Linked DNA regions of Homo sapiens. The protein of the gene in region 1 interacts with the protein of each later gene in a biochemical or structural test. Each region holds a gene or a part of one and is shown on either strand. Other genes may lie near its edges.

Evidence for each region.
Region 2: the proteins of IRS4 (region 1) and CRKL form a complex in vitro, tested with the Homo sapiens proteins (one study listed by BioGRID).
Region 3: the proteins of IRS4 (region 1) and CSNK1G2 form a complex in vitro, tested with the Homo sapiens proteins (one study listed by BioGRID).
Region 4: the proteins of IRS4 (region 1) and SSH1 form a complex in vitro, tested with the Homo sapiens proteins (one study listed by BioGRID).

What each region holds. Positions count from the first base shown.
Region 1 is NC_000023.11:108,733,564-108,741,439, forward strand, and holds the start of IRS4 (insulin receptor substrate 4), read right to left. Parts: upstream 3,001-7,876; 5' UTR 2,782-3,000; coding exon 1-2,781. UniProt on the Homo sapiens protein: Acts as an interface between multiple growth factor receptors possessing tyrosine kinase activity, such as insulin receptor, IGF1R and FGFR1, and a complex network of intracellular signaling molecules containing SH2 domains.
Region 2 is NC_000022.11:20,912,531-20,920,408, reverse strand, and holds the start of CRKL (crk-like protein), read right to left. Parts: upstream 3,003-7,878; 5' UTR 2,475-3,002; coding exon 2,164-2,474; intron 1-2,163. UniProt on the Homo sapiens protein: May mediate the transduction of intracellular signals.
Region 3 is NC_000019.10:1,965,170-1,972,189, forward strand, and holds part of CSNK1G2 (casein kinase I), read left to right. Parts: intron 1-3,621; exon of another isoform or gene 3,622-3,736; intron 3,737-4,338; 5' UTR 4,339-4,603; coding exon 4,604-4,790; intron 4,791-7,020. UniProt on the Homo sapiens protein: Serine/threonine-protein kinase. Casein kinases are operationally defined by their preferential utilization of acidic proteins such as caseins as substrates. It can phosphorylate a large number of proteins. Participates in Wnt signaling.
Region 4 is NC_000012.12:108,784,573-108,791,592, forward strand, and holds part of SSH1 (protein phosphatase Slingshot homolog 1), read right to left. Parts: intron 4,673-7,020; coding exon 3,416-4,672; 3' UTR 1-3,415. UniProt on the Homo sapiens protein: Protein phosphatase which regulates actin filament dynamics. Dephosphorylates and activates the actin binding/depolymerizing factor cofilin, which subsequently binds to actin filaments and stimulates their disassembly.

The DNA.
Region 1 (7,876 bases):
AGTGAAGTCCATGTTGACGTAGTCACTAGAGCTGTCAGCTTCTCTCTGCTCATGTGTGGGCTTTTGTGGTTTTGGCTTGATTTTATATCCTTTTGTAATAAAAGAAAGTCGGTTAGGTCTCTTAGCTTTATTCTTTGGGGGCTCATGATCTGAAGGCTTTGAAGGTGATCCCCCATCTCCAGGCTTTGAGAATGATCCCTCACCTGAAGGCTTTGAAGCTGCATCTTTGGGGTCCCAGTTATAGGAGACTTCTTTGTCTAGGCCCCTCCCCAGGAACTTTCCAGGTAACATTGGCACATACTCACTGTTGTCATTCTGTCCCAAAGGTGAGCTCCGAAAAGGGTTTGGTAGAGAGAAGTAGGAGCTCCAACTTTTGGAGGAAGAGCCACCCTGAGGATTTCTGGGGTTTTTTGGAATTGCACCGGCTCCAGGAGCCATAAACATGTAGTCACTCTCACTGTCATTGTCCTTTGAGTCATCCTCTTTATTAGTATCAGGTGCTTTTGGAGGACTCGGAGCAGGTGGTGGGCTCACTCTGGGAAACATCATCATGTACCCTCTTGAATCTTCAAAAGGGGATCGAGAGTGGCGCTTTTTTGAAGCAGAGACATTTTGAGGAGCCATTGGCATATAATCACTGGAGCTTACAAGAGGGGTGGCCACCCCTGGCCTCATTGGCACGTATGGGTCATCCTCATCTTCATCAAAAGCTCTGGCTCTGTGGGGACCTCGAGCTGCACCTTCTGGGATCTCTGCATCTTTCACTTCTTTGGCTTCTTTGCATTCTTTCGTGGCTCCTCTGTCAACACAAAAATAAAGTCTGAATCTTCCCCCAGACTTCCCTTTTCCACCAGTTCCTCCAGCTGGTGGGGGTGGAGGAGGAGGTGGTGGAGGTGGTGGCATTTGCTGTTGCTTGCTTTGAGTTAATTTGCCAAAATAGGATCTTTTCTTCAGAGATTTTCCACGTTCACCATCACCATCGGATCCTTTCCCACTTCCTGAGCCTTTGCCCCCCCCAGAGTTCTTGCCACCACCTGAGCCATGGCCATCTCCAGGTCCCTGGCCACCACCTGAGCCATGCCCACCTCCAGGTCTCTGGCCACCACCTGAACCGTGCCCACCTGCGGTGCCCTGGCCATCTCTAGAGCACTGGTTTCCTCCTGAGCCCTGGCCATTTGAGCCCTGACCACCTCGGGATCCCTGTCCCTCGCCTGAACACTGGTTTCCTCCCGAGCTATGGCTACTGGAGCCTTGGCCATTTGAGCCCTGGCCACCTCCTGAGCCCCGGCCATTTCCTGAGCCCCAATTGTTCATAGGCATGTAGTCACCTCCGCTTCCTTCCTGATCTTCTTTGCCCTGGGGATTGCCTTCCTCCCCAAAGTTGCCAGAGCCAGAACCAGACACTTCAGAAGACAGGCGAGCTCCATTGTTCGGGGCTTCTGCAGGGTGCCGGGGACGTGCTGGGCTGGGTGCTAAGCGGCGAAAAAAGCTGGCCGGCACTGAAACCGCTCTCCTTGACCTGCGCCCTCTGGGCAGGTGCAGTCTTCCTCGCCTGGAGTGGGCCACAGGCTCGCTGGGTGTTACGAAGCGCCTGGTGAAAAGCATCTCGTCTTCCCCGTCGCCGATGGCCCTGAGGTGGCAAAACTGCTCAAAGCGGGACCTTCTGAGCCAGCCTCCCGGCTCGAGCGGCACCAAGCCCAGGTGCCTCCTAGCGGACAGCAGGGTTAACAGGTGGGCGCCGATGCTGATGCTGTAGCTGCGGCAGCGGGCTCTGTATTCGTCTGCACACAAGGCTCTCATCTTCTCCAAAAACAGCTCATGCATGTTTTGGGCAACCACACAGTCATCGACCTGCATCCAGAGCTCTCCCGGACCGATGACAGTGGACCTGCCTACTTCCAAGAAGAAATACTGCTCCGAGTGTCCACAGCGACGGATGCTCAGGAGCTGGACGACCACGCTGGCCACTTCGGTGTTCAGCCTCACAAACACGACCTCCTCGTCGGTTAGACACAGCCGGAACACGCCGCTCAGCTCTTTTCTGTGCCCCAGCCCCCTGGGTTTGACTATTACCTGCCACACATCTTTATAGAAGGGTGGCTCCGCCGCCGCTGCCGCCGCCAGCGCGGCCGGCTCTCCGTCCGGCTGCGCGCCGAGCGTGCCGCAGCGGCGGCGCTTGCTCTCGAGGATGAGGCGGCTGAGCAGCAAGTACCAGCTTTCCTGCTCCGACTCGTTCTCGGCCACCATCGCGAAGTATTCGTCTTGGGTGAAAAGAGCAATGAGGTGTCGGTACCTTGCATCTGCTCGCTGGCTCACGGAAAAGCACTGGTATAGGGTGATCACGCGCCGCGGTGGAATGAGCGGGGGGATCGCGGCGCCAGAGGCGGCCGCCGCTGCTGCAGCCGCCGCGGCGCGGACACTGTGCCGGAACTTCCTGGCATTTTCGTAGTATTCCAGCCGAGCTGGGGCGTCAGCAGTCTCGAGTTTGAGCACGAAGTAGCGCCTGTGCCCATGCTTCTGTTTCCGCAGGTAGCCGCGTTTGCAGACTTCCTCCCCGACGGGCAGGTCCTCCTCTTCGGACTCGGAGTCTGACCGGGAGCCAGTGGCCGTGGAGAGCCACATGGCTCCCGGACAAGACGACCCGGTCCCAATGAGTGCGGTCGGGGTTCCCGAGGAAAGAAGCGGGGTGGTCACCACTGCTGCTAGAGCTGCCGCTGCCGCCGCTGCTGCACCTCTTAGTCTTCTTGTCGCTTGGTCGCGAGTGAAGGAGCAACTCGCCATGGTGATGCACGATGGTTTTAAGGTGAGCGAGGAGGAGGGGGAATTCAGGAAAGGGAGGGTTGGGGGAAGAGGCTGTCTACCCTCGTCTGCCCGCCCCAGCCCCCTCCTGCCTTGGCCCGCGCCCCCGCCCACTCCACTCTGAGCGCACGACAGCGGGCAAAACAACACGTGACCACAGCCTCACGCGGCGGCCGCTGCGGATCCTGCTACCGGCGCAATGGAGGGGCGCGAGCGGCCACCAGTAGAGGTGAGCAAGGGAGGAGACGGCGGGCTCGGGAGGCGGAGCCACCTCCGGCTGTGCCAAATCCTCCCGGTCAATCTCCAGGCCTGTGGGCCAAGGGAGGACCGAGAGGAGGAGGCGGGCTCTCTGGCCAAGCTGATTCTAACAGGGAGTCCAGGAAGGCATGAGGGGGCGGGAGAAGGCCTGGAGGGGCGGAGGAGAAAGCGGCCGGCTATCAGGGTCGGGAGAGGGCGCCACAGTCGGGGCCCCATTGGTGGGAGGTGGTGGGAGGGGGCGTAGCGCAAGCAGTGCCTGCCTGCGGCGCCAGGGTGCAGAGCGGGCACAGTCGCGGGACAGTTTGTTTGTTTATTTGGGAAGCGGGAGCCAGGTGAAACTGTTGCAAGGCTCTGATTGGTTGGGATAGGAGCCAATGGGAGGGTCCGGCAAGAAGGCAGCCCCGAAATCATTAGTTTGGCGGGAGGGAGGGGTGAGAGGGGAGAGGGGAGAGGGGGCGTGGCTGGGGTCCCAAAGTGGCTTCGCTGTCGGCTTGTGGCGCTCTCAGGCGGTAAACAACCTTACGCAAATAGCTGTTAATGGTGGTGGTAAACTCGTGCAAATCCCAGAGCCGTGGTGACCCGGGATGGAGTCGGGTGCCCTGGTACTCCCTGTCAATCACATAAATTCTCTGTTCCTGTCACAGTCTGGTTCATTCTTTCCAGCCGCACAAGGCGGCGGATCGAGCTTCTTGGGAGAAAGTGTCGGCACCCCCTGAAAACGGGTTGACGACCAGGGCGCTCAGAACTGCTTCCCACCGCTCTGCAGGCACTCCCGAGCCCGCTGCACCCCTGACAGAAGCCCGCGACTCTGAGGCACACGAATAACAGCGATGCATTCAAAATGAACATGATCTTTATTAATCAGAATGCACTTCTAGCCCACGAAACACAGGTTCCCTAAATACAGTGTTTCTGCCTATTTGATTAACGATGACTATGAAAGCACAAATTTGGGGGCCTGCAATGTATACAGCCATATTGGAAAAAATTGGACTCGATTCTTACTGAAATAACCAGTGTTGGGCTGTGAAGGTATTTTTCTGTGGGAAATGCTTTGGAAGGTGCCTTTAAAAGAATCTCAAAATATTGCTTTCCTTTCCTTGAGCGAGACCGAAAAACTTTAGAAAAAGAAAAGCTCATACCTAGAACAAAGGACCACGCTGAATGCATATTCTAGAGCACATTTCACATCCCTCGCGTCAACAAGAAGAAGAAGAGGAGCTTTGATGCATTTCAGTCTACAAGTTGACATCACAAAAGTAAGAACTACTGCCTCCCTCATTTCTGGAAAAACTGCCGGAGTGTAAGTGCAACCTCCTCAAGTCTCTCTCTCTCTCTCCCTCTCCTTCTCCCTTTCCCTCTCCCTCTCCCTCTCTCCCCCACCACCCCAGTTATTACTTGACTAGGATTTTAGACTCTTAATGGTGGAGATGGGTCGTGAATTATCAAAGGAGTGACCAGGTTTGCAAAGAGGAATGGAGGGAGAGGAGGAGAGAAATACAGCATTTCTCTCTGAAAGAATGGAATGTCAGTTCACCCTTGCTCTAGGGTTGATATGGCAAAGGGTACTATTTATAAAATCCAACAGTAAACTAGGCAATATGTATATCATAAAAATAAACCATATTTCTGCCCTCTTAAGAATTTGCTCTGTTAGAAACAGAACACACGTATTTGAATAAATGGCTCCTTTTTGATGCTATAATTTAAGAGAAAAAGAAATTGGTTTGGGTTGTCCCCCAGATATTACAAATATTCAATAACATTCCCTCTGCTGCCAATGGTTTATAAGTGCAATATATTCACAGGTGCTGGAAGCAGCCGTGGTTTCGGAAGGGAGCTAGAGGCAGAACGAGTGTGGATGCTGAGAGATCCCTGACTGTGACTGCTACATATTTCAGCTGCGTAGTCACATATATACAAGATTCCCTGCACTTACAACCAAAATGATAACAAATGCTCTCATTTGGGATTTTGTTTGATAGTCATTAGGATATTTTATAAGTCTTTCCAAGCACAAGGTTTTTTTCTTTTTTTTTTTAAAGAGAAATGTGACAAATAAGGCAACATATTTGAAAGTGCTTTGAGTAATAACATGACATTGAAAATATCAAAATGAATATTAAATGAAATGGGAAAATACTGGAGATTTTTAAATCCTCATGTCCTTTTTCCTGTACATATAGTTTTTACATAGAGCAGTAGGCTTACAATTTATATAATTTTGCATCCTGTTCTTTTCACTGAACATTATACAATATTTCCCCATATTATTATGCATCAGCATAAATATCATTTAAAATACAACATATTATCCAACACAATCGATGAATATTAATGTAATTAATCATCTGCTTTGGGGCATTTAGGTTGTTTTCATTTTTTTCAGTATTATAAATAACATGTCAATGAATATCTTCTACCTACAGCCTTTTAAAATTCCCATTGGGTAAAAACTGAGCACTGGAATTAGTAGGCTAAAAGATATGAATATTTAATACATTATTTTTCAAAAATATTATATTAGTTTACCCTGTCACCAGACTGATTGTCAGCATTGGACATTCTTATTTTTAAAAAATTAGAGATAAGATGGGTGAAACGGTATTCCACTATTCTTTTTTTTTTTTTTTTTGAGATGGAGTCTCATCCTGTCACCGAGGCTGGAGTGCAGTGACGTGATCTCAGCTCCCTGCAACCTCGGTCTCCCGGGTTCAAGCAATTCTCCTGCCTCAGCCTCCCAAGTAGCTGGGATTACAAGTGCCCGCCACCATGCCCAGCTATTTTTTGTATTTTTAGTAGAGAAGGGTTTTCACCATGTTGGCCAGGCTAGTCTCGAACTCCTGACCTTGTGATCCACCTGCCTCAGCCTCCCAAAGTGCTGGGATTACAGGCCTGAGCTACTGCACCTGGCCTCCACTATTCTTTCAATGTGCTTTTTTTTTTTAACTAGTGAGATTAAACATTTATATATATTCACTGACATTATATTATTTCCTATGTCCTTTGTGTTGTCTATTGTATTCTTAGTATTTTCTTCTTATGTGTAACTTGTTTATGTAATAAATACATTAAAACTTTGTGGTATTTGTTGCAAGTTTTTTTTCCCCAGTCTGTTGACTTTAAAAATCACATTTAACTTGATTTTCTTCTATTTTGAAAGATATGTAAATTGGGCATGATGTGATTTGTAGCACAGTTTGAAAGGGAGCTGTTGATACAAGTGTCACCATGGTCACTTTTAAACTTCTTTTAAAAGATCTCATATATTTCAGCTTATATGCTCTTTTAAAAGGAGAAATAGGTTTCTTCTTTTGTCAACAAATTATGAGAGCATCTAAATTAGTTAAATTTTATTTATCACTCTGAAATAATACTTTATGAGACATTTTCTATTTTAAGGGGAAATATCTAGCATTAATCAATGTGTTAAAAAAAGAAGTGTGAAAATAATTTCTAAACTATTACAGTGAAAGATGAACAGTGCTGATCACTTTGTACCCAGGGTATATTATTTGGCTGCAGCGAAGTGGAATTAGAGCTATAGTGAGATGCTTCACAGAAGAATTTTACTTTGTATCTTTCCTAATCTGGCAAGCATGAGTACTTGTAAACTGGGAGAATGTCTGACTAGAACATTATTTTCTTCCTACAGGTCAACCAAACCTTCTCAGTCCTAAAGTTGTCTCAACACTGAAGCTCTGTAGAGCAGACCATCATTACTGAATTGTACCAGATGCTAGAGCTTGTCTGACATACATTTAAATTTTCATTTTCCTGGACAACTTAATGATATAGAATAGTCATTTAGTTTAGGTCAGATTCTCATAGGCAAAGTAAAACAGATATCTAGATGGTTTAGGCAAAATGTAGAGAATTTTTATTTGGCTTGAACTCACTCAGTGGTGGCTTTAATGCTCTACCCTCTCTTGGTTATAGATTCCTGTCTCTTATTTTTTTTCGTTTTTGTTTTTATTTTAGGACAGTTTATCCCAGAAGGCTAAAGTTGCCTTGCATATTCAGTTATTACAACTGTAAAGTTTGGAATCTGCACAAAGGGTCTGAAATACAGATTTTTAAAACAACAGATAATAAATAATAAGACTTAAAAGATAGTTCTTGTTTTAGTTTGCCAATTCAACTCAAGGGATAAAAAACACAAGCATTGTAACTGGCATTTTATGGCTATAAACTAATGTAAATGGATAAATAGCCACAATACCTTTAAAACCAATTCCAACTAATGAAGAAATATGCCTTTAATGATGTGTGCTTTTAAAAGGAATTTCCTGTGAGTCCTGTTTTAAGAAAGCAATTGTTTGAATTGACTTGTCAGTGATAACAAAAATTCATCTGCTTCTTTTCTTACATACATGATCATGAATATTCTAAACTCAACTTGTACTAAAATCGAAATGGGTAATTCAAGTGTGGATTTATTTAGTTTAAAAATTAAACTGTTGTATTAAATATGGACGACATTATTCAAGAGAATAAAACCTAAGAGGAAAAGTAACCAGTATCAAAAAACTATTATTCTTGTCCCACGTATAAATTATCTTCTAAGTATTAATTCTAAAAGCTTCATGAGCTAACGTCCAATTATGCTGATAAAAATGTGATGCCACCCTTGATATTAAAAAATGATGTTAGTGATGACGATTGCTTCTCTGTGTTGGGACATAAATCATGTACAATGAAAGATGCTTTCTACACTATGCAGGAATGAGGGCTGCCCTGTGATTTGTGGCTGCAGCCACTGTTTGTAGATGATGGCTTTGCTTCTCAGCTTCTTTACTTCTGTGCTACTCAAAACCTC
Region 2 (7,878 bases), on another chromosome or scaffold:
TGCCTCAGCCTCCCGAGTAGCTGGGATTACAGGCACCCACCACTACGCCCAGCTAATTTTTTGTATTTTTAGCAGAGACGGGGTTTCACCATGTTGGCCAAGATGGTCTTGAACTCCTGACCTCGTGATTCGCCCGGCTTGGCTTCCCAAAGTGCTGGGATTACTGGCGTGAGCTACCACACCCGCCCATTAACTTGCTTTTTGAAACAGCTGTATTATTAGTACTCATGACCTCAACATAAGCATATGCATGGCTTAATGAATGCCTGGTATTAATTATATAATTCACGCTCACAAACGAGAGGAAGAATTTATTCAGTCATATTACAAATCTCACTACAGTGGGTTCTAAGATTCTCAACTCCTTAAATTGGAATTATATTGTGCTCAAAGTTGACTGCAACTACCAGCATCTGCCAGGAACCGCAGGTTTCACCAATCAGATTCTTGGTGTCCTGGTCTTTGTTATACAGTATTTGATTTATAATCACTTTCTCCCCACTTTTAAAGTCCATTTAGTTCAGTAGTTAATCTTGTAGTCATTATACTGTCATGGCTTTTTTTTTTCTATCTCTATCCCACTATGCAAACAGTTGGTGTCCTCAATTATAATAGCTTTTAATGTTTAAAGTTTAGAGTAATACCCGGTCGACAAATCCATAAAGTCATAAACATCTAACCCTGGAAAAACTGTATCAACACCCAGTCCTTTTAAAATAGATGTTTAAGAAACGAACTGGCCAGTTTGTTACTTTAAAAATTCTAGGCAACTTTTCAACTCAAATTTGGGATAATTTAAATAAAAGAAACCTCTGATAAAATCAGTGTTACAGGGCAAACACAACAATAAAAGCAAATCTCTGCTAAAACGCTTAAGGCAAATTAAAGCAACTAATCAATTAAAATAACGTATTTCACTTGGAAAAGAGAATGCTTGGTCACTTTGCGTTAATTTTAAAATAAGAAATACAAAATCATTAGACTTAACACAAAAAGCATGTCTGAAATTGAACTAGGATACAACTAAGTGTCATTCAAAAATTTTCCTTAATAACATTCTAGCCTAATTCCACCTTGGAAATTAACCAGACTGATCTCTGGCCTACTAATGGTCCTCGGGGAGAAAATATGCAATAAATTTTCCAAAAAATATCCTCGCTGAAGCCAATGCACCTTCTCTTATCTTTGTAATTAACGTACTATAAAAGTGGTGGTGTCTGGCCTGCTTCAAACTTGGCACCACAGTATCAATATACAGTTCTGATATTTTGGTTAAAGGTTTTTTTGTTTCTAAACGCTAAAGCATTTTCATTTTTTTGACTGTTCCAAAGGCTGCAGTCCTGGAGTTCTTAACCTGGAGTTCAGAGATCTGGAGGGAGTACAAGCACCCGGGATGGTGTGCAAACTTGTGTGTACGTGCCTTTGGCGGGGAGGGGTGGGGGTGGGGGTGGGGGTGGGGTGGTGAGTGCTCGGCTATCTTCAGATTCTCAAAGAAGTCTATGGCTTAAAAACGGTTTTTGGCCGGGTGTGGTGGCTCACGCCTGTAATCCCAGCATTTTGGGAGACCGAGGCAGGCGGATCACGAGGGCAAGAGATCGAGACCATCCAGGCCAACATGGTGAAACACCGTCTCTACTAAAAATACAAAAATTAGCTGGGTGTGGTGGCGTGAGCCAGTAGTCCCAGCTACTCGGGAGGCTAAGGCAGGAGAATCGCTTGAACCCGGGAGGCGGAGGTTGCAGTGAGCCGAGATCGCACCACTGCACTCCAGCCTGGCGACACAGCGAGACTCCGTCTCAAAAAAAAAAAAAAAAAAGAGGTTTTTAGAAAAACCAACAAATCCCTGCATCAGTATTACACCCAGAGAAAGTCACGAAAGGCAAAAAGCGTGCATTTTAACTATGCAACCACCGTTAAACATTCAAAACGCATCCTCTTCACATTGAGAAACAGCCTCGTGAGAGGGAAAAAAAAAAAACGCATCCTCTTATCCAGTGACCCAGATCCTGACACTAGCTTTCTGTTAGGAAGGCCTTCTGGAAAATAATTTGGTTCAGAATGCGGGGAATATGGGTTCAAGCGCGCCCCACCCCCCTATACAAGCACTCTTCGACAGACCCGGTTCTCGACCTTCCTCCGCGGTCGGGGAGGGCTCTCGCGTACCTGGGCGCAGGCTCGATGAGGGTGGTGGTGTCCAGGTAGTGGATCTTGTAAAACTCCAGCAGGGCCGGCAAATGGTCAAATTCCTGGTCCCCGATCTTAAAACGGCGGTTGGGCAGCGAGTTGATGATGTAGTGGGAGACCCGCGAGTTCTCGGACACCGACAGCACATAGTCCCCAGGGCAGGTGGAAGAATCGCGGACGAGGAACATACCGTGGCGCTGGCCCTGGAGCCGGGTCTGCGCCTCCTGGCGAGACACCGGCCCCATATACCAGGCGGAGCGGTCCGAGGAGTCGAACCTGGCGGAGGACATGGTGTTGGACCGGGGACTCTGCGGCGGTAGGGGCGGCGGCTGTCCTCGCCTGCTCTGCACGCCTTAGCCCGGCAGACGGCTTTGGGGCCGAGGAAGGGCCTCTCGCACACCTCGAGGAGCGCTCAGAGGGCTGGGCCAGCACTTTCCTCTCGGCTCCGGGCCCGCAGCATCCTCCGACGCCGCCCGCCTGCTCCGGGGCCGCCACACGGAGAGAGCCGCCCGGGAATGCACGGCAGAGCCGGGGGGTCGGGGCAGGCAAACCCGAGCCGCAGCGGAGGCCACCCCGGGGTTCTCGGGCTGCTCGGCGTCCCAGGGGTGCCTCCAGTGACTCCCGGCCTGGAACGCGCCGGCGCCGCAGCTCGACGGGTCTTCACCGACCCCCGCCGTCACACGAGGCACCGAACTCGAAGGAGCGTCGCGCCTCCGGGGTGCTTTTGCCCAGCTTGTTCCCAATAGCCACAGCAACAAAATGGCGGACGCGGGAGAAGCGGCAGCCACCTCCCCCTCCGCTCAGCGCGCTCCGTCTGCGCACGCGCTGGGCCCCGGCTCCCGGCGGCCGCCGGGGCCCTCCCGTTACGTCACACAGCGCAGCCAATCAGGAGCACCGTCGCGACGATCAGGGTGGGCGCTGGTCGCGCCCGCTCCCGCGTTCCAGGAGGAGGCTGAAGAGGCGCCGGCGGTAGGCACTCTCTTCCTGGGCCGCTGCGCGCCGCTGGGGGCGCTGCGGCTGCCGGGTCTCCCAGCGCTGGCAGGAAAACAGCTGGAGCCGAGAGGGAACCGCGTTTCGAAAACCTGCTTCTGGGAACAAAGCGTAACGTGCAGGCTGAATCGCGGGCCAGGGAGGCGTGGCACTGAGGCGACCTGGCCAGCCTAGGGGCCTGAGGGAGGTCAAGGACTGACAGGTCCCGATGGGCCGAGGTGGCCCAGTAAAAGGATGAGCCCAGGGGCAGATGTGACCACCAGATAGGTGACTGACTGAATGACTCAGTCCCCAGGTGGCCTGATAGGCTAAGGAAGCCCTAGTGGCTACGTGACCCGCTAAATGGAGTGAGAGGAGAGAGAAGGTGAGGGTTAGATTGACTCAATTAAGTGGTCAAGGAAGTCCACAAGTGGGTAACCTGGCTATCATGGGCTCTGAACTGCTGAAAGTAAAATACAAATGCCTCTCGGGCGTGGCCCCGAGGCTTCCCCTGCCCCGGATTATGCCTGCTTCTGCCTATTTATTAATCCCTATTTGTTTTTGTTTGTTTTCTTTCTTTCTTTCTTTCTTTCTTTCTTTCTTTCTTTCTTTCTTTCTTTTCTTTTTTCTTTTCTTTTCTTTCTCTCTCTCTCTCTCTTCCTTTCCTTTCCCTTTCCCTTTCCTTTCCCTTTCCCTTTCCTTTCCTTCTTTCGACGGAGTCTCGCTCTGTCACCAGGTTGGAGTGCAGGGGCGCGATCTCGGCTCACTGCAACCTCCGCCTCCCGGGTTCAAGCGATTCTCCTGCCTCAGCCTCCCGAGTAGCTGGGATTACAGCTGTCCGCCGCCATGCCCTGCTAATTTTTGTATTTTTAGTAGAAACGGGGTTTCACCATGTTGGCCAGGCTGGTCTCAAACTCCTGACCTCAGGTGATCTGCCTGCCTCAGCTTCCCAAAGTGCTAGGATTACAGGCGTGAGCCACCGTGCCCAGCCTGTTTGTTTTATTTTGTTTGTTTTTGAGACAGGTTCTCCTTCTGTCACCCAGGCTGGAGTGCAGTGGAACTATCATGGCTCACTGCAGCCTTGATTTCCCCATCTCAAGGGATCCTCCCACCTCAGCCTTCCGAGTAGTTGGGACTACAGGCTCGCGCTGCCATGCCCAGCTAATTTTTTTGATTTTTTTTTTTTTTTTTTTTTTTTTGAGACGGAGTCTCGCTCTGTCGCCCAGGCTGGAGTGCAGTGGCGGGATCTCGGCTCACTGCAAGCTCCGCCTCCCGGGTTCACGCCATTCTCCTGCCTCAGCCTCCCAAGTAGCTGGGACTACAGGCGCCCGCCACTACGCCCGGCTAATTTTTTGTATTTTTAGTAGAGACGGGGTTTCACCGTTTTAGCCGGGATGGTCTCGATCTCCTGACCTCGTGATCCGCCCGCCTCGGCCTCCCAAAGTGCTGGGATTACAGGCGTGAGCCACCGCGCCCGGCCTTTGATTTTTAATAGAGACGAAATCTCACCATGTTGCCCAGGCTCGTCTCAGACTTTTGAGCTCAAACAATCCTCCCCCTCAGCCAAGATGTGAGCCACCCCGCCCAGCTATGTATGAAACAAGTTAATATATGCAAAGTGCTTAGAATAGTACCTGGCACATAGTAAGCATCATATGAGTCTTCCATTATTATTATTCAGTCATTCCCTGGGCCTCTACCTCTATACCCTAAAACCCTGAGCATACACCCTCAGTGGGTGGGTGAGGGTGGAGAGAAAAATCTCCACTTTGTTTTCTAACTACTTTTCACTGTCAGATTTACCACTTCATAATCACCTGCTCCTTGCCCAGCCCTTTTTTTTTTTTTTTATTCTGATACGGACTCTAGCTCTGTAGCCCAGGCTGGAGGAGTGCAGTGGCGTGATCTCAGCTCACTGCAACCTCTGCCTCCCAGGTCCAGGTTCAAGCAATTCTCCTGCCTCAGCCTGCCAAGTAGGTGGGATTGATTACAGGCATGCACCACCATGCCCAGCTAATTTTTGTATTTTTAGTAGAGACAGGGTTTCACCATGTTCGCCAGGCTGGTCTTGAACTCCTGACCTCATGATCCTCCTGCCTCAGCCTCCCAAAGTGCTGGGATTACAGGCGTGAGCCACCGCCTGTAATCCTAGTGGTGATTTTTTAATTTTTAAATTTTTTGTAGAGATGAGGTCTCACTGTATTGCCCAAGCTGATCTGGAACTGCTGGGCTCAGGTAATCCTCCCAGCTTGGCCTCCCAAAGTGTTGGGATTACAGACGTGAGCCACCCACCCAGCTGCTCAACCTTCTTAATCTGGCTTCTACCCATGCTTTGACTGAATTAGGCTTTTTGGGTTTTGTTTTGTTTTTAAAGACATGTCTCTCTGTTGCTGACTCTCGTCTCAAATTCCTAGGCTCAAGTAGTCCTCCTGCCTCAGCCTCCAAAGTAGCTAGGATTACAGATGTGAGCCACAGCAACCCGCTCTCTGCCCTCTAAATGCAGAGCGTCCTTCACCTCTCCATAGTTTTTCCTTTAGTAGGCTAATAATCAGCATGAAGCATTTAGGGGTCACATCTCTGGTGACTCCAAACACATATTCTAAAAGCAGAACCAAAACTGACCATACTCTCTGATTACTATGTATACACTGTGGGCACAGCCTAAATTAATTTTTATCACATTCTATTGTAATTGTTCATAAATATTTTTCTCATCCCAATCTGAGCATCTTGAGGGCAGCCTGCTATATATTATTTTTTCTATTCCCAGTACCTAGCACATAATACATACTTTTTTTTTTTTTTGAGATGGGGTCTCATTCTGCTGCCCAGGCTGGAGTGTAGTGGTGCAATCTCGGCTCACTGCAACCTCTGCCTTCTGGATTCAAGTGATTCTCCTGCTTCAGCCTCCTGAGTAGTTGGGATTACAGGCACGCGCCACCATGCCTGACTAATTTTTGTATTTTTAGTAGAGATAGGGTTTCACCATGTTAGCCAGGCTGGTCTCGAACTCCTGACCTCATAATCTGCCCGCCTTGGCCTCCCAAAGTGCTCGGATTACAGGTGTGAGCCACCACGCCCAGCCGATACATACTTAATGTATGGTTTTTGAATGTAGATGGATAAAGATGGGAGGAAGCCAGAGAAAAATGATAATTGAACATTAGCTGCTGGCTCACTCCCTTTTCAGCAGCCCTCTTTGCCTCAGCCCTCTTTGCCTCATCTTTTCAGGGTGTACTATCTGTCTATATAAACTATCTGCTCTTGGCCAGGTGCAGTGGCTCACACCTGTAATCCCAGCATTTTGGGAAGGTGAAGCAGGTGGATCCTTTGAGGCCAGGAGTTAGAGACCAGCCTGGACAACATTGCAAAACCCCATCTCTATTTTAAAAAAAGTAAAAACATTCTTTTTTTCGAGACAGAGTCTCACTCTGTTGCTCAGGCTAGAGTGCAGTGGCGTGATCTCGGCTCACTGCAACCTCCGCCTCCCTGGTTCAAGTGATTCTTCCTGCCTCAGCCTCCTGAGTAGCTGGGACTACAGGCGCATGCCACAACACCTGGCTAATTTTTGTATTTTTTAGTAGAGACCAGGTTTCAACATATTGGCCAGGCTGGTCTTGAACTCCTGACCTCGCAACCCGCCCACCTTGGCCTCCCAAAGTGCTGGGATTACAGGAGTGAGCCACGGCACCCAGTCAATGTAAAAACATTGTAAAAATAAACTCTCTGCTCTCTATTTTCCTTAAATAAACTCTCTTTTTAGAAAAAAGTAAAGTCCGGGCACAGTGGTTCACACCTGTAATCCCAGCACTTTGCAAGGCTGAGGTGGGCAGATCACTTGAGGTGAGGAGTTCAAGACCAGTCTGGCCAACATAGTGAAACCCTGTCTCTACTAAAAATACCAAAATTAGCTGAGCATGGTGGCGCTCACCTGTAGTCCCAGCTACTTAGGAGGCTGAGACAGGAGAATAGCTTGAACCTGGGAGGCGGAGGTTGCAGTGAGCCAAGATTGTGCCACTACCCTCCAGCCTGGGAGACAGAGTGAGACACCATCTCAAAAAAAAAAAAAAAAAAAGAACCAAATATCTCTCATTTTGCTTCTAAATACTCCAGAGGGGAATAAGGTGTGGGTTAGATAAAAGTGAAACAAGAATGGCCATGTGAGATTGATAATTATTGAAACCAGGTGACATGATGCGAGGGTAGGGTTAATTATATTCTATAATACTTTTATGTATGTTTGGAATTTGTCATAATAAAATTTTTGTAAAAGATACTTTCCTTTATTTTTCCTTAGCACAGTTGAGACAAGCATAAAATAAACTTTCCAGGCTGGGCATGTTGGCTCATGCCTGTAATCCCAGCACTTTGGGAGGCCAAGGTGGGTAGATCACTTGAGCCCAGGTGTTCAAGTCCCAGCTACTCAGGAGGCTGAGGTTGGGGGATCATCTGAGCCCAGGAGGTCGAGGCTGCAGTAAGCCTTGATTGTGCCACTGCACCTCAGCCTAGGCAACAGAGCAAGACCCTGTCAAAAACATTCCAAAAAAAGTTACTAAATGCTGAGATAGCAAAACAGCAATGAGTAGAGAAACAGAAAGAAACCATTAAAAAAGCTGTAATAGGCCGGGCGCAGTGGCTCATGCCTGTAATCCCAGCACTTTTGGAGGCCGAGGTGGGTGGATCACGATGTAAGGAGATCAAGACTATCCTGGCTAACATGGTGAA
Region 3 (7,020 bases), on another chromosome or scaffold:
CAGATCACGAGGTCAGGAGATCGAGACCACAGTGAAACCGCGTCTCTACTAAAAATACAAAAAATTAACCGGCCGTGGTGGCGGGCGCCTTTAGTCCCAGCTACTCAGGAGGCTGAGGCAGGAGAATGGCATGAACCCAGGAGGCGGAGGTTGCAGTGAGCCGAGATTGTGCCACTGCACTCCAGCCTGGGCGACAGAGCGAGACTCCGTTTCCAAAAAAAAAAAAAAGATCATTGTTTCCATCCCTGCTAGCACAACATCCAGCCTGTAGCCTGTGGATCAATGAATGAATGAATGACTCGGAAATCAAGATGACTCCTTGACATGTCATTCATTCATTTATTTATGCATGACAAGGTGTCCCACTGTCACCCAGGCTGGAGTGCAGTAGCACGATCTTGGCTCACTGCATCCTCCACCTCCCGGGTTGAAGCAATTGTCTTTCCTCAGCCTCCTGAGTAGCTGGGGCTACAGGTGCGTGCCACCATGCCCAGCTAATTTTTATATTTTTTCATAGGGGGTTTCACCATGTTCCTCAGGCTGGTCTTGAACTCCTGAGCTCAAAGCAGTCTGCCCGCCTCAGCCTCCCAAAGTGCTGGGACTACAGGCCTGAGCCACTGTGCCTGGCCAAGTCTTAGTGTTTTTGAGGCACGGTCTCACTGTGTCTCCCAGGCTGCAGTGGAGAAGCAGAATCACAGCTCACTTTAGCCTCCACCTCCCAGGCTCAAGCGATCCTCTCACCTCAGTCTCCTAAGTAGCTAGGACCACAGGTGCGCACCGCCATGACTGGCTAATTTTGTTTTTATTTTTGTAAAGATAGGGTCTCCCTGTGTTGCCCAGGCTGGTCTTGAACTCCCGGCCTCAAGCAGTCTGCCTGCGTCAGCCTCCCAAAGTGTCGGGGTTACAGGCAGGAGCCACCGCAGCCGCCCATGACTCTCATTATTGAGAAATACATTTGTAAGGCTCTAGGTGCCTGTAGGTGCCGTGGAGAGCAATTCCTCTGATGGAGCTGGGGAAATTGGGTAAATTGAAACCCCCGGAAAGGCTTTGCCGTTCTAGAGGCTGTGAAGGACACGCGTGATCCATGGGAGGAGGTAACATGTCAGGATGAGCGGAAGTTTGGAAGAAGTTGGTCCCAGGCCTGAAAGATCACTGTGAGGGTTCAGGACTTCAGTGGAGGAGGGACTGTAGAGGTTTTAGAAGCAGCAAGAGAACTAGAATGAGAAGGACTTGGAGATGTGACTGCATTGTCGCTGTCTCGCGAGAAAACTTTAACACGTGAGGAGTTGCCTCTGAAGGGTGAGCAGGGGAGTTGCTTCAGTTGCGCTCTAGTCCCAGTGAAGATTCTGTGAACCTGGGGGTAATGAGGACAAAGAACTTGGAACAGCCCGGAACCTCGGTTGATGAAGCCGCGGCCGGGTTGAGAGGACCGACTGCAGTTCTGAAAGACGTTCTGCTGTGGGTAATCAATGCTATCAGACAGCATCACGCCCCACAGAGAAATCTTTCATGAAAGGAAGAGTCCATCGCTGTGGCCAACTTTTTTGTGGTCATAGTTTAAGAAGTTGCCCCAGCCTCCAGCAGCCACCGCCCCAACGAGTCAGCCGCCGTCCACATTGAGGCAAGACCCTTCTCCGGGGAGATTAGGGCCACTCCCGGTTCCCATGATCATTACCATTGCTTAGCAGTAAAGTATTTTTATTTCTTTATTATTTATTTAAGATGGGGTCTTGCTGTATCCCCCAGGCTGGAGTGCAGTGGTGCGATCATAGCTCACTGCAGCCTCCGCCTCCTGGGCTCAAACGATCCTCCCGCCTCAGTCTCCCGAGTAGCTGGGACCACAGGCTTGCACACCACGCCCCGCTTAATTAAAGTGTGTCCTTTGATTAGACACAACGCTACTGCACACTTCCTAGACCACGGTATACTGTGAACGTAACTTGTGTGTGCACTGGGAAACCAGAACATTCGAGCGGCTGTTGCCGTGCGGAACCCAAGGCCTGTGATCCCCACAGGGTGTTTCTGGCACCGGAACGCAGGGGCCACATCCAGGGGGGCAGTGCTTGTGACGCCGGTGCCTTCGTTTCTGATGTGGCTTACTCAGCTGGGAGTTCCTGTCCTAACATTTTCGGCGATGGCTGTGCACCCACGGCCCCTCTTCACCCGCGGCCCCTACGTCCTGCCGGTTGGCAGGAAACCTCTTCCCCTGCACATCTGGGGCACAGCAGCAAACTGTGGTCCCCCTTCTTCAGTGAGGGTGGGGCTTCTGTCTGTCTGGAGCCCTAGAATGGGGCCAGGGGTGGCTGGGGCCTGGGTCAGGGAGGACCCGGCAGGATCTGTGCAGACAGGCAGGTGGCTGCGGTGGCTCCCGGTGCAGGGTTCTTGGCCTCCTGGGCGGGTACCTGGCTTGAGGGCGACGAGGTGACAGCCGCGTCCCTGGGGTTGCACCACCCGAGCGTCCAGTTAACACCACAGCTGCCACCCTTCAGTTCTGCAGGTGGGGCTCCTCCCTCCTCCCCAGGCTGCCCCCACCACCCTTCAGTTCTGCAGGTGGGGCTCCTCCTTCCTCCCTCCTCCCCAGGCTGCCCCCGACCACCCTTCAGTTCTGCAGGTGGGGCTCCTCCTTCCTCCCTCCTCCCCAGGCTGCCCCCGACCACCCTTCAGTTCTGCAGGTGGGGCTCCTCCCTCCTCCCTTCTCCCCAGGCTGCCCCCGACCACCCTTCAGTTCTGCAGGTGGGGCTCCTCCCTCCTCCCTTCTCCCCAGGCTGCCCCCGACCACCCTTCAGTTCTGCAGGTGGGGCTCCTCCCTCCTCCCCAGGCTGCCCCCGACCACCCTTCAGTTCTGCAGGTGGGGGCTCCTCCCTCCTCCCCAGGCTGCCCCCACCACCCTTCAGTTCTGCAGGTGGGGCTCCTCCCTCCTCCCTCCTCCCCAGGCTGCCCCCGACCACCCTTCAGTTCTGCAGGTGGGGCTCCTCCCCAGGCTGTCCCTGACCACCCTTCAGTTCTGCAGGTGGGGCTCCTCCCTCCTCCCTCCTCCCCAGGCTGCCCCAGACCACCCTTCAGTTCTGCAGGTGGGGCTCCTCCCTCCTCCCCAGGCTGCCCCCGACCACCCTTCAGTTCTGCAGGTGGGGGCTCCTCCCTCCTCCCCAGGCTGCCCCTGACCACCCTTCAGTTCTGCAGGTGGGGCTCCTCCCTCCTCCCTCCTCCCCAGGCTGTCCCGAGGCTCCTTGCTGGGGACCGTCCTGCCTCCCGTCGGGGCCTGCGCTGAGACTGGGCTCCATGCCAGCCGGGGCTGGCTGGCCCCCTCGCTCCAGAGAGCGACCTGCACAGAGTCCCCTCAGCCATGAGCCCCTGTCCAGACACGGCGTTTCTCTGTGGGTGGCAACAGGCTCTGGGGCCCTCAGCTCTGGGCTCGGGAGCATTTAAGGTGGTGCAGACTCAGCGAGGGGCTGTGGGCTGGGGTCCCACCATCCCGGGAGCAGGGACTGCGTGTTCCTTCTCAGGACCAGAGGCTTCTGTCTTTTCCCCTGGGGTAGAAGTTTGCTGCCTGCCCCGTGCCCAGCCTTGCTTAGGTGGCTGTTGGCTCCGCTGGTCCCTCAAGCCCCGCCATTCCCTCCTCAGCTCCGCTCTGCACCGAAGGGGATGGGTCCGACCCAGCCTGGCATCATCACAGCCTCGAGTGGCGTCCAGCCTGCCCCGCTCCACCAGTGGCTGCTGGAGAAGAACCCGAGCCTGGGTCAGGCCCTGGGGGCTCCTGCATCAGTGCCCGGCTCTCCGGGGCCTCCTGCCCTCCGGCCCACTCTCCCCGCTCTCAGCATCAACCAGTCGCCATGGGCAGGGGCAGCTCGGTGGCTCCTGTGTCCCTGCCTCGGGCCTGCCTGCTGTCATCTGCCTCCCTCCCTCTTTCCCAGAGCGGCCCTGGGCCTGGATACGGGGACTGTTGTGTGGCCCCTCTGTGTCTGGGGGTGCGACTGCTCCCCTGGCTTCAGGATCCTCAGGGCTTCTACCCGGGATTGGCAGTCATGCTCTCCTGGCAGTACACTCTCCCACCTGTGCCACCCACCCACCCACCCACCCATCCCGCTTTACAGAAAGCCCCCTGAGCCCTACCCTGTTCGTCCCCAGGCAGCCACGCCGAGATCTCTGGCCTCTGATGTCATGTGATGTGTGCTTCCCAGCTGGGTTCCGGGCAGGGACGGTGCTCATCATGCCCCGGCCTTCAGAGCTCCTTCCAGCCCAGCAGTCTCCTGGCTGTGTCCTCTGTGGCCTCCGCCCCGTGTCCTCAGTGGCCCCGCGGGGGCCTTGCCGGTGCTCACCTGTGCCTCTGTTTCTCTGCAGCTGTGAGCCGTGAGCTTTGAGGCGGTGGGATGTGTCAGCAGAATGTCTCCTGCCCCCGAGAGCGACCCCGAGGCCACTGAGAAGAGCAGCGCGGCCTGGCCGGCCCGAACGCCTGCGTCTCAGTAGCTGGGAGCCACGGGCCCACGCCCGCCCACCGGCCGCAGTGATGTTCTAGCCACAGAGGAGCCAAGACCTCAGGTTTCCAGAGACTTGGGATTTGCACGGCAGCAGAGTCACCGTGGAGAGGCCAGGGTATCACAAACTTATGGATTTTGACAAGAAAGGAGGGAAAGGGGAGACGGAGGAGGGCCGGAGAATGTCCAAGGCCGGCGGGGGCCGGAGCAGCCACGGCATCCGGAGCTCGGGGACCAGCTCGGGGGTCCTGATGGTGGGCCCCAACTTCCGCGTCGGCAAGAAGATCGGCTGCGGCAACTTCGGGGAGCTCCGCCTAGGTGAGGCCCTGCTCGGTGGTAGGTGGGGTCGGGAGGCTGCTGGCAGGGCCGCCCCGAGTCACCGGAGCCTCTGGTGGGGCCGCCCGGGGTCACTGGAGCCTCTGGCGGGGCCGCCCCATGTCACTGGCAGGTGCGTTGAATCATCAGTCCGTCGTGGTGCGAGTGCCACTTCCCTTCGAGGAGGTTCTGTGGGGAGAGTGGGTTTCTGGCCCTGTCACCTTTTCGGGAAACAGTTCTGTTGGGAGGCAGGTGGCCCAGAGCAGGCCAGGCCACGCCGCAAGGAGCCCGATGTTAAGTTGTGAATGACTTTCATGGCCCATGTGCACGCTGGGCGAAGCCCCGGCTTTAACGGCAGGTGCCTGCCCGGCACTCAGCTCGTGGGAGGTCTTGGCCAGCCCGGAGCTGGCGTCAGGTGGCTGGAGTGACTGTTCTGTGGTGATGATACTGCTGTGTGCCACTCCCAGCTTCACCATGTAAAAGGCCGCACCTGGCCCACCTGGCTCCGTCCCTTCTGCTCACACCAACCTCTCCCGGGTCGGGGTCTGATTGCCCGGGCAGGCGTGAGGAGCAGGGCCGAGGACTGAGCCTCTCATTGGCCAGGGGTGCCTTCCCTGGGGTGGGGGTGCCTGAAGATGACCATCAGGCCTGGGGGAGCTCTGAGCACCTTTGGGGCCGTTCCCAGTCTGTGATTAGCTGGGCCAGGGAGCTGAATCATCCCCGGAAATGTGGTTAAATTTATTGCTGGTGCTGCCGGAGCTCCTGCGGGAGGGCATTTGGCGTCTGTTGCTGGGGTTGTCCGGGGAACCCAGGTGCACCCCCAGTCAGTGTCTGTCGTGGTGGGAATCAGGGTCCCTGGGAAAGAGCGCAGGATGGGCAGGTCCGAGAGGCCACGGCAGTGGATCGGCCTCACGTGGGCACCCATGGCAGGCGGTGCCCATGGCACCCATGGCAGGCACTCAGCCCGATGAGGTTGTCAGATGAGGGAAACAGGCCCACGCAGTGGTCATGATGTGGCTGCATCTTCAAGAGCGGCCGCCCAGGGGCGCAGGAGCATGGGCTGTGGCGGCCTGGACCCCAGGCATGTTTTGTGGCCCTGCTTCCCACCTCCTGCCTCACTTTACCCACCTGTTAAATGAGGATGAATGGTAGTTGCCACTCGTGGGCAGAAGGGTTCAGCAGGCAGTTATGCGGCAGAAGTGTGTGTCCTATGAGTCAAGCAGCTTCTCCCAGGCGAGGGCAGCTGTTGGGGTCACTGTTGGCTGTTTCTGTGTTCCCATTGGTTGCACCCAGGGCCCCAGGAGGCCGGGGTTTGAGACCCCACCCGAACCAGATCCCACCCCAGCCCTTGGGGAGGCTGCTGGGATTCCACCTCTGCGCAGAGGCTGGGCTTGGGCCACGAAGCCTCACTGCCGGTCCGACGGCCTGTGGCTCAGGAGGCCCGGGCTCCGTTTCTCAGCCAAGAGACTGAGCTTTTCCCAACAGGAGCTGTGGCCTCCCAACCCCGTGTGTGTGTGCACGCTCAGACACACGTGCAGACACATGCAGACATGTACACACGTGCCCACAAATGCACATGTGCACACTAAAGCACACGCACACAGGCGCACACAGCCACAACCACGCATACACAGGCACACAGGCTCATCTGCACACACATGCCTGGCACAGCCCCGTGACCTGCAGCCTGCGGGGTATGGCTTTTGGGAACCCAGATGGCTATGTGGGTCCTGTCCTTGGGCGGCGGTTGCAGGCTGCTGAATAGTGCAGGTCCCTGTAGGCAGATGAGAGTGACGTGGGTGATGCCAGCTTTTTTTTTTTTTTTTTTTTTGAGACGGAGTCTCGCTCGGTCACCCAGGCTGGAGTGCAGTGGCGCAATCTCGGCTCACTGCAAGCTCCGCGTCCCGGGTTCACGCCATTCTCCTGCCTCAGCCTCCCGAGTAGCTGGGACTACAGGCGCCCGCCACCACACCCGGCTAATATTTTGTATTTTTAGTAGAGATGGGGTTTCACTGTGTTAGCCAGGATGGTCTTGATCTCCTGACCTTGTGATCCACCCACCTCGGCCTCCCAAAGTGCTGGGATTACAGGCGTGAGCCACTGCGCCCGGCCTGGTGACGCCAGCTTTTACTGAGTTGCGGTTTGCGCTCTCTTCAGCCTGGCATTTTGGGCGCTGTGTGCTTCGCGGGCAGCCGCACATCGTGGTTTCTCAGGGGTGCCGGGAGGCCGTCCA
Region 4 (7,020 bases), on another chromosome or scaffold:
CTTGCTAGAAGGCTCGGAAGTAGCCGTAAGACAAAGAAATGGAAATCGGCATTGTCAATTACCATCCGAGAGCAGCCCCGGTTCTCCTCTTCCCGTGACCACTATCCCCCTTATACTTAGCAAGACTTAAAGAGAAGACTTTCCTGTATCAATGCAAGGTGAAGATGTAGAAAAGTTCAGTCTAACTTTTGGCATGCCACATGAATTAATGTGAGGCAGAAGATAAGATTCAGCTGTTTTTTATAAAGAGTATCAAGCTGATTTAGAAAATGTTCCTTTTGTCCCAATTCAACAAATGCATTCAATGAAAATGATAGTCATAAAAAACCAGTGACTTGCACAGCACAGACCCCTGCCTCCTCTGCCTGCCTCTTTCCTGTGCCACTTATGTTTGGAATTTTCCCCATCAGCTAAGGTTGCATACAAAGCAAGGGCCAAGCTATGGCATATGTTACAGTGCAAACTTCCTTTTCACAGACAGCATGAATTCGTCTTTGCCCAGGTGTCCCGACACCTGACAGAATGCTCATCTTGTTCATACAGCATTTTATTTTTTTGAGACGGAGTTTCACTCCCAGTTTCATTGCACCCAGGCTGGAGTGCAGTGGCGCGATCTCGGCTCATTGCAACCTCCGCCACCCAGGTTCAAGCGATTCTCCTGCCTCAGCCTCCTAAGTAGCTAGGATTACAGGCACGCACTACCACACCCAGCTAAGTTTTTGTATTTTTAGTAGAGACGGGGTTTCACCATGTTGGCCAGGCTGGTCTAGAACTCCTGACCTCAGATGATCCGCCTGCCTCGGCCTCCCAAAGTGCTAGGATTACAGGCGTGAGCCACCGCGCCCGGCCCCATCATACAGCATTTTAAATAGCCATGTGCCATCTGTTTACATGCAACTGATCTGGGTTTCCAAAAATAAACCTTACCCTTTTCTCCAGGCCAGGCTATTAAGCATCAAGTCCAGAATGCTTCACTCTGCTCTGTGGACGGGACCAGCGCTCTCGTCTGGATGTTGATATGCTAGCTGTGCTTCCAAAAATGAATGGGTAAGTTTGCCAGAAGCCAAAGACCAACTTGTACTCTCCAGATTCCACACCCCACCCCCCAACTCTTTAGATAAGAAAAATTATGGCTTTCAAAATTAAAGTTTTCAAAAATATATCATTCTCATACATAGACGTGGTTAAAAAACCAACAAAAGCCTGTCATCACTAAATTTAAAAGATTATTTTGACACAAAAATTGATCTACCACATGAAATTTGATTTGGCAAAACATACCGAACTTGATATTTTTTGAGGCTATGCTTTTGTTGGCTGAGGGAAAGGGGGAACAACCCACAGGGGTTTAGGAATAAGTGGATAATCACCTTTTAAGGTGATTTTAATTGACACTAGTGGGAAAACAGCTCCCTATAAAGTAATGTATGTATTTTTAAAAATCACTCCAAGGAGACAAAGTCCTGGAGGGAGGATTTTTGCAAAAACTGTGCTCACTAGGTAAAATATGAACTAGCCTTGTTCCTGCAGATCCCTCCTGGGGTGCTTTCTAGAATAGCTTTGGGGAACACAGTTCTGGCCAATGTTAAGATGATGGCTCACTCACTCACTTTCAGAATTCAGCTGGTCCTTGAAGGCTTTCTGGTTTCACTGAGTTAATCTGGCGGACCCAGCTGAGGGCAAGATGGAATTGTGGAAGAGCTTCAGCCAACTGTGTTCACCTGCCTTCCCCCATGTACGCAACCTACTCCATCCTGCACAGGTGAGGCTAGTGCGGGGCTGGCAAAGCTTGTGGTCGGGAGGAGGGAAGGGTCTGGCCTTAGGTGTCAGAGAGGCAGAGGGCTTCACATTTACCCAGTTTCTTCCTACAGGGCCATGAGCAGCCCTGTGTGGCAAATCAAACCAGGGGTCAGCAACTTTTTCTACAAAGGGCCTGACAGTAAGTACCTCAGGCTTTGTGGGCCACATGAATTCTGTCACATATTATTTCTTTTTTTTACAACTCCTTAAAAAGGTAAAAGCCATCGCTTGAGCCAGGGAGGTTGATGCTGCAGTGAGTCATGATTGCACTACTGTACTCCAGCCTAGGTGACAGAGCCAGGCCCTGTCTTAAAGAGGAAAAACCATTCCTAGCTCACGGGGCCACATGCCATAGTTTGCTGACCCCTGAATTCAACCTTTCTGCTTTTCTGCAAGCTGCCTCTCTCTCGAAATGTTTTGACATCTAGCTTGCTGACACCTTTGATTCAAGCCTGGCGCAGCGGGACTGGCTGAGCTCACCTGAGTCTTAAAGGGGCCGCCCACAGAGCCAGGCAGCGACTACAGATCCCTCTTATACTCCCTCACTGCTGCTGGGAAGAGCTGGAGGGAAACAGGAAGCAGTAATCTCACTGCAGGAAGGGGCAACTGTAGACATCCGGGAAGCATCCCGACAGTCCCGTTCCTTTCGGGGAAGCCGCTGAAATCTCCTTTCCCTTCCCTAGATGGGCCCTAGTGGACCTAAGCATCTGGGCTCTCAGCAGGACGATGTGTCTCAGAACCACCACCTGAGCCAGACACTTGAGCAATTTCAAACCTAAACACAATCATGTGTTTCAGCAGCAGACACTCAACAATGCAGGTGGGCCCTTCCCCTTGAGATTTAAACTTCAGCATTAGCAACAACTGAGAACAACCCATACATTTTCCCCACCGGACCCCTGTGCTGGTCAAACACGTAACAACACAACCAGGACAGGGCGCCTGCACCACCATTCGGGCACAGAGTCAGCTCAACAACAGCGTGGGACTACTCATCTGATGACTTTACTCAGCAGTGCTTGGGGCTGTCGGGTTAAAAGTCTTGACACGTCTGGGGTCCCAACCAAAACACAAAACGAAAAATTCTTTTTTTGGAAAAACGCTTTCAGACAGAGCATTATTCCCTGGAACAAGCCTTGGTCATTCGTGTGTTTTAAAAATAAAAAGCGCAGCGAGAACAGAGGTAGGACTTAATGTTGCCATCCGAGAGTTTTCTGCGAGGCCAAGAATGAGCTAGAACGTGTGCCGCGGTGAGGCTGCCACCACCAGGACTCTTCTGCAGGATGCGAAGGGAACAGTCTGGATGTGTGCGCCTATGTGTGCACGTTCTTCCTAAAACATGGTTCTTCTTGAAGACACGGTGGGAGCGGAGTTTTGTGTCTCCTGGCCGGCGGCTCCTGGTTCTCCCAGGCCACACGACTGACAGCTCCCCTTCTTGTGCTGCATGTTGGTTAGTTTCTTCTCCTCCTCTCTATGGCAAGAGTAGGGGAAAAGTTAGGATGACTTCACTCGTTTAAGGGAAATCAAGATGTAAGGGGTCGATCCAAATCCACAGTGAAAGTGAGGGAGGGATCATATGAAAATATCCGCCCAGCCTGACGCAGCAAAAGGCGGGTCAGCTTTTGCTCATCCACGAAGGGCTCTTTAAGTTTTCTGGGGCGGGTTTCCCTGATGGTTTGGAGGTTGCAGCTGGGTCCCTCGGGGTTCCCTGGGGCTCATGCAAGAAGGAAGATTCACTCAAAGTGGTGTCCTGGGAGTCAGCGACGGTGGACGGGTCAGCCTCACTGGACAGGTCTTCCGTTGAGAAGGTGAGACTCCCCAGCTTGGCAAGAGAGTGTGAGCGCTTCAGTGGGGAAGAGACGGTGAGGCCCGCCAGCCGGAGCCGGGTCTCAATCTCCTGTGTCCGCTGCTTCACCAGCCCGGGCTTCCCACGGACACTGTGGATGCTATCGCTGCTGGAGCTCCGGGTCAGGTTGGAGCTCATGGAAGAGGAGGTGGGGGTGTAGCAGATGGTCTTCAGAAAGTCTTTTGAGAAACTACTGGTGTGGTCCAGGCGGTAGAAGAAAGGAGGGGGGCTCTTCAGTGAGCCTCCTTCCAATGAAGCGGGGGCGGCCTCTGACTTCTCATCACTCCCGGCCTGGCTGGGCATAACCAGGGGGCCCAGCTCGTGGAGCGCGGCTGGATCCTGGCTCTCCTCGGGGATGCTGGCCTCCAGCCTGCTGGCAGGGCCATCCCTGGAGGGAGGTGCTGGGTCTGCAGGCACGCTCTTCAGCCGCTCTAGCTCTTTGGTGTGCTTGCGGACCAAGCCTGCCTTCTGCAGCTGAATGATGGACTCCTGGTGCTGCATCAGGTAGCTGTTGGTTGTCGGCTTCTCAGATTCATTACTGAACAGAAGCCTCAGGTCCTTGGCTGGCTTCATATCTTTCTTGGGTGACGATTCTTCCTTTATTACCACTTCTGTGCTGGGAGGGTTCTTATCACAGTGAGAATTCTTCAAAAGGAGGGACTTTGGCAGGACTTTTGGGGTCTCTCTGGAAGGTTCCAAAAGGCTGGCTGGTGGCTCTAGGGCAGCTCCAGCCCCAGGGCCACTGGTGTCTGCCCTCCTGGAGCCTGCTGGTGGTAGGAACGGGGGAGGTTCGGTTGGGCCAGAGGCTGGCTTCTCCGGAACACGGGACCTGCTGGCCAAGTGGGCCACAGGGGAGGACGTGATGTGGGGTAGGAAGGCTGGCTGGGTGCAGATGGCGGGAGCATTGGGGTCCTCACATCGCTCCCTGGAGGCCTCAGGAGCCCCGCTGGCTGTAGGGTACATGCAGTCGGCACAGGATTTATAGGAAGGCTTCACTTTGTTAAGGATCCCAAATATAGCATCATCCTGCAAGGAAGGGGACAAGAGCATGGTGAGACGGTGCAGTCATGAGCCAAAGACCAAAAACATGAGGGTGGGCAGGGAAAGGGGTGCGAGGCCGGACTGGGGGCCAGGCCTGGAGGGGAGGCTCTCATTTCACTTAATACTGACAGACAGACCTCCTGGAGCCCACTTGATCGAGAATAACCACTGGCCTGAGGTGGATTTTATACCCCAATAGAAAACAAGTTTACATTGTTTCCTAAGGAAACCCTCCTGCCTTTTGGTCAGTGAGGATCTAAGTGAACGTGACACATGCCTCTGTGTCCCCACCCTTCACTTCCTTACAGGCCAACTGACAGGTACCCAGTGGTCCTGGGAATGGACTAGAAAGCTGTGTGAAGAGTCCCAGGGGAGAGAGGGACAAGTTCTAAGTCTCCGCGGAGGGAAGGCTTCCCAGAGGAACTGACACTTCAGCTGAGGCTTCTGGGACAAGCAGGTGTTGACCAGCCAGAGAGAGCAGCATGCAGGTCCAGAAGCAAAGCAGGAAGGAGGAGGGCACCCCCCTACCCCACCCCGCCTGCACAGGACTGTAGGCTGGAGGGCAGGACAAGGCAGGAGGGCAACAGGGCTCTGTCTCTCTCTCTTTCAAACAGATAAGAGACAAGGTCCTACTATGTTGCCCAGGCTGGTCTCGAACTCCTGGGCTCAAGTGTTCCTCCTGCCTCGGCCTCCCAAAGTGCTAGGATTACAGGTGTGAGCGACTACACCCCGCCAGCTCTGTCTCTCAACACCTCCTTATGTCCTTGCCCCATCCTCTGAGCCACTGTGATCCCAGCATCCCAACTTCCCCTCTTACCCCAGCAGCCTGCCTGTAGACCACAGCCAGAGGGGGCTCATCACCCACCTGCTTAAAGGCCCCGCCATGGCTTCCAGTTTTTTTTTTTTTTTAAATGAAGTTTCGCTCTTGTTGCCCAGGGTGGAGTGCAATTGCGTGATCTTGTCTCACTGCAACCTCTGCCTCCCAGGTTCAAGCAATTCTCCTGCCTCAGCCTCCTGAGTAGCTGGGATTACAGGCATGCACCACCACAGCCAGCTAATTTAATATTTTTAGTAGAGATGTGGTTTCACCATGTTGGTCAGACTGGTCTCAAACTCCTGACCTCAGATGATCTGCCCGCCTCAGCCTCTCAAAGTGCTGGGATTACAGGCGTGCGGCACCATGCCCAGCTAATTTTGTATTTTTAGTAGAGACAGGGTTTCACCATGTTGGTCATGCTGGTCTCAAACTCCTGACCTCAGATGATCTGCCTGCCTTGGCCTCCAAAAGTGCTGGGATTATAAGCGTGAGCCACTGCACCTGGCCCAGGGTTTTATCTCATCTGTCTTTATGGGTATTTGCTTTGTGGTAGGCAGGGAAGTGGGGGAAATCCATAATTAGTATTTGATTTGGAATGCTTTATGGAGGTCGACAGATGCAACTGCCCAGTTTTGTTTGCATTATAACATGCTGTTAATAATAATAAACTGGCTGTATACTTGAATGCATCTGTCAGGACCCCAAGTGCCCCCACTTGAGAACCACGGCTGTCCTGTGAGATGGGCAGGTGAAGCCAGAGGCAACAAAGTCAGCAGCAGGGCAAGGGTGGAAGTGGAGACCAGGCTGCACGGCCACCCTTCCACTGAACCAGCCTCTGCTCCTGCATCACTTCCCCCATGGAGGAGGGAAAAGGTTGGCTGGAATTAACCAATTTCTCAGTAAGCACCAGGTTGAAGCTCAAACCTTGTGGCAGATAATCCACTAAAAATGGCAACTCCAAGAGACTAATGGAGTTAAGTATTAGAGTCTAAGTTGGAAGGCTGGATACTTGACAACGTTGGGAAATTACTATCAGTTTTGTTTTTGTTTTTAGACGGAGTCTCGCTCTGTCACCCAGGCTGGAGTGCAGTGGCACGAACTTGACTCACTGCAACCTCTGCCTCCTGGGTTCAAGCAATTCTCGTGCCTCAGCCTCCTGAGTAGCTGGGATTACAGGCATGCACCATCACACCCAGCTAATTTTTATATTTTTAGTAGAGACAGGGTTTCACCATGTTGGTCAGGATAGTTTCCATCTCCTGACCTCCTGATCTGCCTGCCTCGGCTTCCCAAAATGCTGGGATTACAGATGTGAGCTACCGCGTCTGGCCCTATCAGTTTTTTTAAAAGGTGACAATGGTATTGTGGCTATGTTAACATACTGGAGCATTTATGAATAAAATGATATATCTGAGGCCAAGCGTGGTGACTCAAACCTGTAATTCCAGCACTTTGGGAAGCCAAGGTGGGCAGATGGCTTGAGACCAGGCTGGGCAACAGTAAGACCTCATCTCTA